Linked DNA regions of Homo sapiens. The protein of the gene in region 3 purifies or fractionates together with the protein of the main gene of each other region. This does not show direct contact. Each region holds a gene or a part of one and is shown on either strand. Other genes may lie near its edges. The genes, in order: IFT172, KATNIP and IFT80.

What was found.
Region 1: the proteins of IFT80 (region 3) and IFT172 purify together in Homo sapiens (affinity purification with mass spectrometry; one large-scale study listed by BioGRID and IntAct). This does not show direct contact.
Region 2: the proteins of IFT80 (region 3) and KATNIP purify together in Homo sapiens (tandem affinity purification; one large-scale study listed by IntAct). This does not show direct contact.

What each region holds. Positions count from the first base shown.
Region 1 is NC_000002.12:27,458,721-27,462,449, reverse strand, and holds part of IFT172 (intraflagellar transport protein 172 homolog), read left to right. Parts: intron 1-613; coding exon 614-691; intron 692-932; coding exon 933-1,181; intron 1,182-1,356; coding exon 1,357-1,435; intron 1,436-2,620; coding exon 2,621-2,741; intron 2,742-2,927; coding exon 2,928-3,072; intron 3,073-3,581; coding exon 3,582-3,671; intron 3,672-3,729. UniProt on the Homo sapiens protein: Required for the maintenance and formation of cilia. Plays an indirect role in hedgehog (Hh) signaling, cilia being required for all activity of the hedgehog pathway.
Region 2 is NC_000016.10:27,735,015-27,738,743, forward strand, and holds part of KATNIP (katanin-interacting protein), read left to right. Parts: intron 1-480; exon of another isoform or gene 481-576; intron 577-3,729. UniProt on the Homo sapiens protein: May influence the stability of microtubules (MT), possibly through interaction with the MT-severing katanin complex.
Region 3 is NC_000003.12:160,280,726-160,284,225, reverse strand, and holds part of IFT80 (intraflagellar transport protein 80 homolog), read left to right. Parts: intron 1-1,612; coding exon 1,613-1,748; intron 1,749-3,411; coding exon 3,412-3,500.

The DNA.
Region 1 (3,729 bases), on a different chromosome or scaffold from region 3:
ACCTCCCCTCCAGTCCAGAGCCTGTCTTTGCAATTCTTGTGCATAGGGGTAGATCCAGGTTTTGTGGGCCGGAAGCTTATACAATTTGAGGAGCTCTCTTTAAGAACAGTTGCCTTAGGCCAGGCGTGGTGGCTCACACCAGTAATCCCAGCACGCTGGGAGGCTGAGGCAGGTGGATCACATGAGGTCAGGAGTTCAAGACCAGCCTGGCCACATGGTGAAACCCCATCTCTACTAAAAATACAAAAAATTAGCCAGGAGTGGTGGCACACGCCTGTAATCCCAGCTACTCGGGAGGCTGAGGTGGGAGAATCGCTTGAGCCAAGGAAGCAGAGGTTGCAGTGAGCCCGAGATCACACAACTGCACTTCAGCCTCGGCAACAGAGTGAGACTCCATCTCAAGAAAAAGAACAGTTGCCTTGGAAAGGGTGTGTGCAAATAAGGAGCCCTGAAGCTTAAGCTTCTTTTAGTTTCCCAGTATTTCTGTTGGTATAGTAGTTAAAAGGCTTTTGGTCCTCATGGGCTGGCATCTTAGCCAGGCTGAGGAGAGCTTGCTGCTTTCTGATCCTCATATCTTTCTGGTGTCCCTCTCTGCTCTGCCTGTTTCCCCTAGAATGCTGTGGAGGAGGCCATGGGCATGTACCAGGAGCTACACCGTTGGGATGAGTGTATCGCTGTGGCTGAAGCCAAGGTACCTGTTTTATCTTCTCCACAGTTGTTCAGAATTTGGTTCTGCCAATTTCAAAAACCTCCTTTTGTCAAGGAGGCCATAGAAACCAGAACAGGGTTGGGGCTTGGACTTGATGTGGTGAGGAGTTAGGATACTGCTGACCCAGGAGGATTCCCCTTGTTATAGAGGGATTGGAGAAGCATGGGAGGCAGAAGGGTAGGAAGGGGGATGTGACTCCTAGTTGTCCTCTGTGCATGTCCAGGGGCACCCAGCCCTGGAGAAGCTACGTCGTAGTTACTACCAGTGGCTGATGGACACACAGCAAGAGGAGCGAGCAGGTGAACTACAGGAGAGCCAAGGGGATGGGCTAGCAGCCATCAGCCTCTACCTCAAAGCTGGGCTCCCTGCCAAAGCTGCTCGGCTGGTGCTGACCCGAGAGGAACTGCTAGCCAACACAGAGCTGGTAGAACACATCACTGCAGCCCTTATCAAGGGGGAACTCTACGAAAGGGTATGCTGGCTTCCTTTTCCTAGCCCTTATCTCCAGAGCTCAGGACCCTTCCCTTACCCAGAGGAGTCTTGGGGTGCAGAGCGCTTCCTGACTGCTGGTGTTCCCTTGTTTTCGGAGCTAATACTTAGTTCTTTGTGTTGTAGGGGTATCATAGTAATGTGGTATGTGTTAACAGGCAGGTGATCTCTTTGAGAAGATTCACAATCCACAGAAGGCCCTGGAGTGCTACCGTAAAGGCAACGCATTCATGAAAGGTACTAGCCACCTATAAGCCATCCTTTACTGTTGTGGACTCTTGCCCATCTGGTTCCCTGGCACCTCTTGTAGGGGTGGGTTGCCCCTACACACCTGTGGGTGTTTCTCGTAAGGTGGGACGAGAGATTTGGAAAAGAAAAAGACACAGAGACAAAGTATAGAGAAAGAAATAAGGGGACCCGGGGAACCAGCGTTCAGCATATGGAGGATCCCGCCAGCCTCTGAGTTCCCTTAGTATTTATTGATCATCTGTGGGTGTTTCTCAAAGAGGGGGATGTGTCAGGGTCACAAGACAATTGTGGGGAGAGGGTCAGCAGACAAACACGTGAACAAAGGTCTTTGCATCATAGACAATGTAAAGGATTAAGTGCTGTGCTTTTAGATATGCATACACATAAACATCTCAATGCTTTACAAAGCAGTATTGCTGCCCGCAGGTCCCACCTCCAGCCCTAAGGCGGTTTTTCCCTATCTCAGTAGATGGAGCATACAATCGGGTTTTATACCGAGACATTCCATTGCCCAGGGACGGGCAGGAGACAGATGCCTTCCTCTTGTCTCAACTGCAAGAGGCATTCCTTCCTCTTTTACTAATCCTCCTCAGCACAGACCCTTTACGGGTGTCGGGCTGGGGGACGGTCAGGTCTTTCCCTTCCCACGAGGCCATATTTCAGACTATCACATGGGGAGAAACCTTGGACAATACCTGGCTTTCCTAGGCAGAGGTACCTGCGGCCTTCCGCAGTTTTTGTGTCCCTGGGTACTTGAGATTAGGGAGTGGTGATGACTCTTAAGGAGCATGCTGCCTTCAAGCATCTGTTTAACAAAGCACATCTTGCACCGCCCTTAATCCATTCAACTCTGAGTGGACACAGCACATGTTTCAGAGAGCACGGGGTTGGGGGTAAGGTTATAGATTAACAGAATCTCAAGGCAGAAGAATTTTTCTTAGTACATAACAAAATGGAGTCTCCTATGTCTACTTCTTTCTACACAGACACAGTAACAATCTGATCTCTCTTGCTTTTCCCCACACCTCTTGGTGCGTGTGTTCAGGATGCCTGGCTCCAGTCCTCCATTCCTCCCCTTCTTACCTATTCTCCATGCTTCATCTCCCTGTCCTACCTTTTTCCTGAGGCCCATCCCTGGAAATCTGGGCTGAGCATCTTTTCTCTCCCTGGCAGCGGTAGAGCTGGCTCGATTGGCCTTCCCAGTGGAGGTGGTGAAACTAGAGGAGGCATGGGGGGACCACCTGGTGCAGCAGAAGCAGCTTGATGCAGCCATTAATCACTACATCGAAGCCAGGTATGGGAGTATGGGAATGTAAAGGAGATTTAGGTGTGAAGTGAGGGGCAGTGGAGCAAGTAAGGACACCAAGGCCTTAAAGAAGAGATCTCAAAATGTAGGTTGAAGTGTGCTTAAAGGGTCCTTTTACCTCCATTCATCTTCATCTTTCATCCTACATATTTATATCTTTCCCAACTTTGCCAGGTGCTCCATTAAGGCAATTGAGGCCGCCCTGGGTGCCCGCCAGTGGAAGAAGGCAATTTATATATTAGATCTACAGGACCGGAACACTGCATCCAAATACTATCCTCTCGTGGCCCAACACTATGCATCCCTGCAGGAGTATGAGGTGAGGAAGAGTCCCTTTCCGCAGCACGAGGCAATGCAGTAGAGGATAACAATGAGAGAACCCAAAGCAGGAAGTGGAGGCAAGTTCACCAGATCCTTCTTTCTGGGCTCCAAACAGCATCATCACCTTGAAGGGGAAGAGAACAGTTTACTTTCCCATTTTCATTCCAGTGTGACACAGATATCGCCCTTCACCCCAGATATATAAAGTGAGTCTCTAGCTGTGTTCCAGTCAGCGTGATTCTTCATGAATAATGCTAACATAGTTATGATATAAAATTGCTTTGCATTGCAGAAATGTGAGGCCCTTTTGGATTCCACTGTTTGGGGCTGGTCTTTCTTTTTAAATGGTAGAATGTATGAGACACCCATACTCATCTTTTCTTCTCTATTATTACAAGGTTGTATCGCAGGCTCTCCACCATCCCAGCCAAGGTTTGTTCTTTCCTCATTCAAGCTGCTTTAAGTCTGTTGCTCTGACCTTTTGTATCTACCTCCCATCAACTACAGATTGCTGAGGAGCTCTATACTAAGGGAGATCGGACAAAAGATGCCATAGACATGTACACCCAGGCTGGTCGTTGGGAACAAGCCCACAAGGTAGGGATGGGTGGAGTTCATGATAAGAGAACTCTGCCTTAGTGGCATTGTGGCCTCA
Region 2 (3,729 bases), on a different chromosome or scaffold from region 3:
GTGACTAATATTCCCTATGGGGACCCCACTCTGGTGATCCTTGGGCCACATCTGCCCATGAATGTGGCTTGTTTGGCCTGCAGAGTGCTGGAAACCTTTCAGAGCTCAGAGCTGCCAGGCAGGGTACGACCCTCCCACCTCCCTGTGACCCCTGCATACCACTGATTTCCACCTGAGCCCACTCCTCTCTTACAAGCCTGACCCCTGCCTCCGCCTGCTTCCCTCTCTCAGTTCCCTCTCCGCCAGACGTCTTGGTGGGAACAGGGCTGGAGGTCAGATGGGCTCTGGACTGGGGAAGGAAGATGGGTGGCCATGTTGTGGAAGCCGGCCACCCTATTAGGAAAGCTAGGATGCCCACCTTGTGACTGTGCTGGACTAGATGGTTTCCCCATCACCCACTACCTCTTTAAAGGAAGGTGTTTCTGTCTCACCAGATATCCCTGTGGCAGTAATTTTGCAGAACCAGTCATTGAAAACTGCCCATGCTGTCCTTCTCAAATAGCTGTTCCCCGGTGAATTCACAGCACGCACTTGCTCTGTGCCTCTGCTAAACAGAGAATCCATCCATATAAGCAGGTAAAAGAGTGCTTTGAGAATCGACTTTTCTGACAGTCGGCAAATGGTAGCCTGCCATCTGCAATTGGAGGATTGAAGCCGAGTTCCTGTGGCGTAACGCAGGCCGGACAGTTCTCCTTCTAAATTGCTGCGGAAACCTCTGTAACTCAGTGATCCTGAAATTTGTTAGCTCCTACTCACCTAGCTTTCAGGAAGGCTAAGAAGGGGTTAGTATAGGTGAACATCTCCAGGGTCTCAGATTCTGTCTCCCAAGAGCAGATCAGAAGCCAAGGCAACACGGGAAATAAACGATCTGGAGGTGAAACCCACAGGCCGCCGCTTTTCTGATCAGGTTCATTCTTAGAGCACTGTTGAGACAGCAGTGCTGTTCAGGAGAGAAAACCCATGTTTATTCATTTGCTATTCCAAAGTAATTTATTTATTTATTTTGAGACGGAGCTTCACTGTCGTCACCCAGGCTGGAGTACAATGGCACGATCTCAGCTCACTGCAACCTCCCCCTCCCAGGTTCAAGTGATTCTCCTGCCTCAGCCTCCCGAGTAGCTGGGATTACAGGCTCACGCCATCATGCCTGGCTAATTTTTGTATTTTTAGTAGAGACGGGGTTTCATCATGTTGGCCAGACTGGTCTCGAACTCCTGACCTCAGGTGATCCATCCACCTCGGCCTACCAAAGTGTTGGGATTACAAGCATGAGCCACTGCGCCTGGCCCAAAAATAATTGTTGGGTGGCTACAATGTGCCCTTGGACAAGACGGGCAGGGCTTCAGCTGTCTTGGAGCCTAACTTTGAGTGGGAAAAACAATAAATAAGTTAAAAGCTGATAAGCAAGACCATTCAGAGACTAAAAGGAAATAAAACAGGGCAATAAGATAAAGAGGGGACCGATGAGGTGGGGCTGCCCTAGAGGTGTGTTCACTGAAGGTCCTGAACAGAAGAAGGAGCAAGGCTGTGGGCATCTGCGGCAGAACACGCCAGGCAAGTGCACAGGCTCTAAGGCAGGAGGAACAGGCTGAGCCACATCAAGGAATCGAGGCAAGCGCCAGGAGCCGGAGTCAGAGAGGTCAGCAGGCACCCCTGAAGGGGAGTAGGATTTCTTGTCAGTGCCATAGGAAGTCACTGGGCAGCTTTAAGCAGGAGGCTCCCATGATCTGATTTCAGTTGTTAAAAAAAGACTCACTGCTGTGTGGAAAATGAAGTGAGTGCAGGGTTTGGGGGAGACAGCCCAGAGTGGAGGCAGAGAGACCAACTAGGAGGCGATGGTGGTGTCTCTGGGGGAGACCCTGGTGGCCCAGGCAGCAGCACACGCGGGCAAGGAGGTCAGCTCCAGGGCGTGTTCTGGAGAGAGAGCCGAGGGACGTGCCCACATACTGGATATGAGTGAGAAAGTGAGAGGGGACGAGGGGACGGCAAGCTTTTTAGCAACCGCTCGAATGATGGACCCATTTTTAAGATAGTTTAAGACTAAGTGTGGAGAAAGTGATTTCAGAATTCTGTTTCAGGCACACCAGGCACATTGACTCACACCTGTAATCCCAGCACTTTGGGAGGCCAAGGCAGGAGGATCCCTTGAGCCCAGGGGCTCAAGACCAGCCTGGACAACATAGTGAGACCCCGTCTCTACAAAAAAAAATTTATTTTAATTAGCTGGTCGTGGTGACGTGTACCTGTAGTCCCAGCTATCCAGGATGCTGAGATGGGAGGGTCACTTGAGCCCAGAAATTCAGGTTGCAGTGAACCCTGATCGAGCCACTGTAACGCCAGCCTGGGCAACAGAGCAAGACCTTGTCTCTTAAAAAAAAAAGAGAGCATTCTGTTTTGGGCATTTTATATTGGAATTCCTGTTAGATATCCAGGAAGAGAGGCCAAGCAGTCACTTGGGGCTTGGTGGAGAGGTCAGGGTTGGAGATGAAAATAACTGGGAGCCTGGGACCTGAATGAGACCACCTGGAGAGCAAGGGAAGAGCACTCGGGAGGCCTAGGACTGAGCCCTGGGCAGCCTAGTCGTTCAAAGTGCAGCCGAAGAAAAGGAAGCAACCCAGGAGTCGGGCAGGCTCAGCCAGCGAGGCAGGAGGAAAGCCAGGTGGGTGCAGAGCCACACAAGCCCCAGGGAGGAAAGTCATCGCAAAGGAGGGGAAGCTGCCGAGTACTGCCGAGCCGCCACACCCACCCACTCCTAGGAGAAATTCCTATTGCGTATGGCAGTCAGCTGGACCCTGTAATTTACTTTAGGAACCAGACACTTCTGAGAGTCATTAGTAATGACACCAGGATAACAGATATAAATCAGAATTGTCCCAGACAAACTAGGATGGCCCGTCACCCTAGTTACAGGTGCCCGGGCCAGGTGGGTTCCATGTGGAGGTGGAGGCAGAAGCCCAACGGGAGGAGGAACAAGGGGTAGTGGGAGGAGGAGCCCACGGGGACAGTGACACTCAGAGATTCACTGACGGGGTGACGGACAGATCATGCGGGGGGCCCTGCAATGGAATATTCCTTAGCAGTAGAAAGGAAAGGAACTATCAGTTCCCATAACACAGGTGAATCTCAGAGCAGTTATGGTGACTGAAAGAGCCGAGCAAAAAAGACTACATGCAACATGATTCCTTTATGTAAACATTCCAGAAAGGACGATCAGTATATAGGGAGGGACCATAAGTGGGTGGTTGCCTGGAGCCAGGGAAGGAGGAAGGGGAGACAGGGGTTACCAAGGGGCACGAGGAAACCTTAGGGTGATAGGTACGTTTGTTCTCTTGAGTGTGATGGCTTCATTGGCGTAGACACATGTTAAAACTGATCAAGCTGTACCCGTTAAATATGCACAGTTTATTGTATGGGGTGTGTATTCTATTCCCCGATAAAGCTGGAAAAAGAGTTTTGCTGTAAAGAGGATGACACAAGTGAAACAGTAGCAGGAGATGTGATTTTATCTTAAGCATGGAAGGAAGAGAGTTGAACCTGCGTGACATAGGGGCATTTAGGCTGGCAGTGAGAGAGGAGAGCGAGGTGGGGACCATTTGTGAAGGTTACTGTATGTCATGTGGAGAGCTTTGGAATTTATCCCATCATCGGCATGGTTCTGCACCCCGTCGTGTGAAGAAATCATCCGGAGAACTTGTTCTGAGTCCAGAAGTTACCTACAGGCTGCCTTGA
Region 3 (3,500 bases):
AAAATAATTTAATTTACAATTAAAATTAAGAAATTTATAATTTCCTAATTATAAGAATGGAAGTGTCTTCTACATGTCACACTTCACCCAATTACCCAGTACATTTGTATGCAATACAAAGGATTTTTAAATTTTACATTCTATAAAATAATAGAAAAATCACCCAATCTATTTTATTTTATATGTGGAAGAAATTCATATCCAGGATCTTCCCAATAACAGAGCCCAAACTAGAACTCAAGTCTGTGTATTAGTAAATGAATATTAATTAGTGTAGGGCAAGGGAGACGGTTCTAATGAACACAAAACTGCTTTTATGTCCCACTACAAAGAGTAACCCAGGAGGAATAGAACCTATGTGGAGGTGGTAGGACTTGACAAGAGGAAAATGGGGGAAGCCCTGCTGAATGAAGTGGGGGAGCCCCTCTTCCCCTATGTACATAGGCATTACTATAATTACTATCCATCTTTGATTTTTAATTTCTTAGGAGAATCATATCTGTTTAACAGTGTTTTTAAAAGAATACACTAGGTTCTGATGATGATGATGACGATGATAAGCAATTCTTTATTGTAAAGATCAGTTTCTCTGAAACATTTCCATTTTGAAAATACCTAGAGTTATATTTCATGCATGCCTTGATATATATGAAACCAAATTCTTTTCTTTCTTAAAATATAAATTATGGTATTCCAGAAAGAGTTGAACTTTTTAAAATGTATTATGAACTGGTATATGACTGATTCATCAATTTGGATAAAGGTGTATGTGTGTTTTGTTTTACTTTAAAAAGTGTTTTTTATAGTACATTTTGATACAATGACTTGATGTTGTAGTCATTATTCTGGTTGAATTCACAATTCCTACCAAAGTCTTCAGACATTGTAGGAGGTAAATAAATCTTGCTTGGTTTGAATTAAAATGAATCTATATTAAAACATTTTCAAGTTATAGTAAAATTCATCTCACTAGCAAATGAAAAGCAGTGATCTTGGAGTTAGAAGTCTGAGTTGCAAGTTTAGATATACTTGACACTGGCTTTTTCTGAGCAAAATCACTTAGTGAATATGAGTCTAGTCTTCTGATTTGCAAAGTAAGTATAGTAATACCTACATTACAAGCTTGTTTCCTATTTTGCAAGAATGAATGTGAGAGAATCTATAGAATTTAAGGCCCTGGACACATGATGTATTTCCACATATTTCCAAAATTTTTTTTACAAATATTTAAGATATAGTTGTTAGGCAACTTATTAATCAAAATAGACCTCTCATATGATACTCAGAATTGCCTGACCCTTTCACCTTGACTACGAAAGGTAGGACAGGACAGATCGAGTGTTTCTCAGCCTACAGAATATCAAAATACATATTATTTTATTGTATTTTAAGAGGTATCTTTTCCTTGGATGTCAGGCAAATATACTTCAGTGCAGCTTTTGAACGATTAACATATTGGCAGTTTAAAATTATTTAACAGGGACATTTTATCATTATAAATGGGGAAATGACATTTAATTGATCTTAAAGGAAATGATTTTATAATTAATTAAAATGATCTTATGTCAAACACTAAAACTAACCCAGTATTTACATTTAAAAAAAATTTTAGAATGAAATCTTGGAAATTGCTCTGGATCAAAAAGGACTTACCAATGATAGAAAAATTGCTTTCATTGATAAAAATAGAGATCTCTGTATCACTTCTGTGAAACGATTTGGGAAGGAAGAACAAATTATCAAGCTTGGTAAAATAATTTTAATACATTTTAAGTTTTAATTGTCAACTTTCTTATATTTGCTGTAATAAATAATTTGAATGAATCTGGAAATGTTTTAATGTTTTGATCTTGTAATACTTCTTAGCTATTTAACCCTTTTTTTAAAAAAGTAGGAGTGAAAGTTTATTAAAAAGCTTTATTTTTAAATTTTTATTGTGTTTTATTGAGACAGGGTCTCACTCTGTCACCCATGCTGGAGTGGAGTGGCAAGATCAAGGTCACCAAAACCTCCGCTTCCTGGGCTCAAGTGATTCTCCTGCCTCAGCCTCCCAAGTAGCTAGGACTACAGTCATGTGCCACCACATCCAGCTAAATTTTTTTGTATTTTTGGTAGAGACAAGGTTTCACCATGTTGCCCAGGCTGGTCTCGAACTCCTGAGCTCAAGCCATCCACCTGCCTCAGTCTCTTAAAGTGCTGGGATTACAGGCGTAAGCCACTGGGCCTGGCCTATTTGAAAGCTTTAGAGCAGGAAAGAAAGGAAATAAAGTAAACTTGGTAGAGGGCAAGCAGGCAGCTTGAGAGATCAAGTGCACTGTTTGATCTTTGACTTGGGGTTTTATACTTTGGCATGCTTCTGGGGAGTTGCAACCCTTCTGCCCTAATTCTTCCCTTGGGTGGGCTGTCCACATGCATAGTGGCCTGCCAACACCTGGGAGGGGCCACATGCACAGTGTGTTTACTAAAGTTATACACATGCTCACTTGAGGCGTTTTTCCCTTACCACTCCAGTGTTTCTAGAGGAAGTTTGTATACCAGTTAAACTCCTCCACCATTTTGCCTGTTAGTCATGTGTGAGCCCACTCACCTAGCTCTTGAGATCTTATTGAGAAGCTACTGATTTCCAGTTTCAGTGTTTATATTGAGAGACTACCTTTCCCTGGCACTGGCTGCAACCAATTATTATTTTAGAGAGACAGCTTAACAACAGCCTGACCATCACCTGATGGTCACCTGACATTCCTGGTGCTGGTGGCAGGGGCCTCTCCTGACTTGCTCATGTCTGCCTGACTACCTGCTGTAACATTTCCACCCTCAAGAGTCCAAGACCCCAATTCTATGGGGAAAATGGACAAAAGTCAGTCTTCTGTAACTGCTTCCTGCTGACAGAGGGGCAATGGTGGTTATTCTGTGGATCTTGGCCTCTTGCTAGCTGTCAGGGCAGGGTGGCTCCGTGGGTTGGTGAAAGCAGTATGCAGCTAGGTCCAAGGGAGACAAGGGAGGACTTCACCTCTGTCATGTCCCACTGATGGGCAGACTAGGGGTCCCCTGTAGAAGAGTGACTCTTGAATATTGAGGGGACGGTATTCCTCACTGAGGATCATCTGGAGCTTGATGGCCTGAGGGCAAGAGGATTAACTTATTAGCAAGTCTTTAGCTGCTGCAGCTAAATTGTCACTGAAAGAAAGATTTACAGATTAAAAATATAAGGGTTCTAAGTAAAGCATTCAAATATTTCTGTAAATTCTTGTGTGATTGTTTGGTATGTGTTTTTCACCATTATAGAATCAGAAAGTAGAGTCATATCTACCAGAAATTGTATGGGATTTTGTTTGTCAGGCATTTTAAAGATCTATTTTTAATTCTTACATATTAAAGCTAATAGCACATTAACATTCTTTTTAAATTAAGGAACAATGGTGCATACTTTGGCATGGAACGATACATGCAATATCCTTTGTGGACTTCAAGATACTCGATTTATAGTGTGGTATTACCCC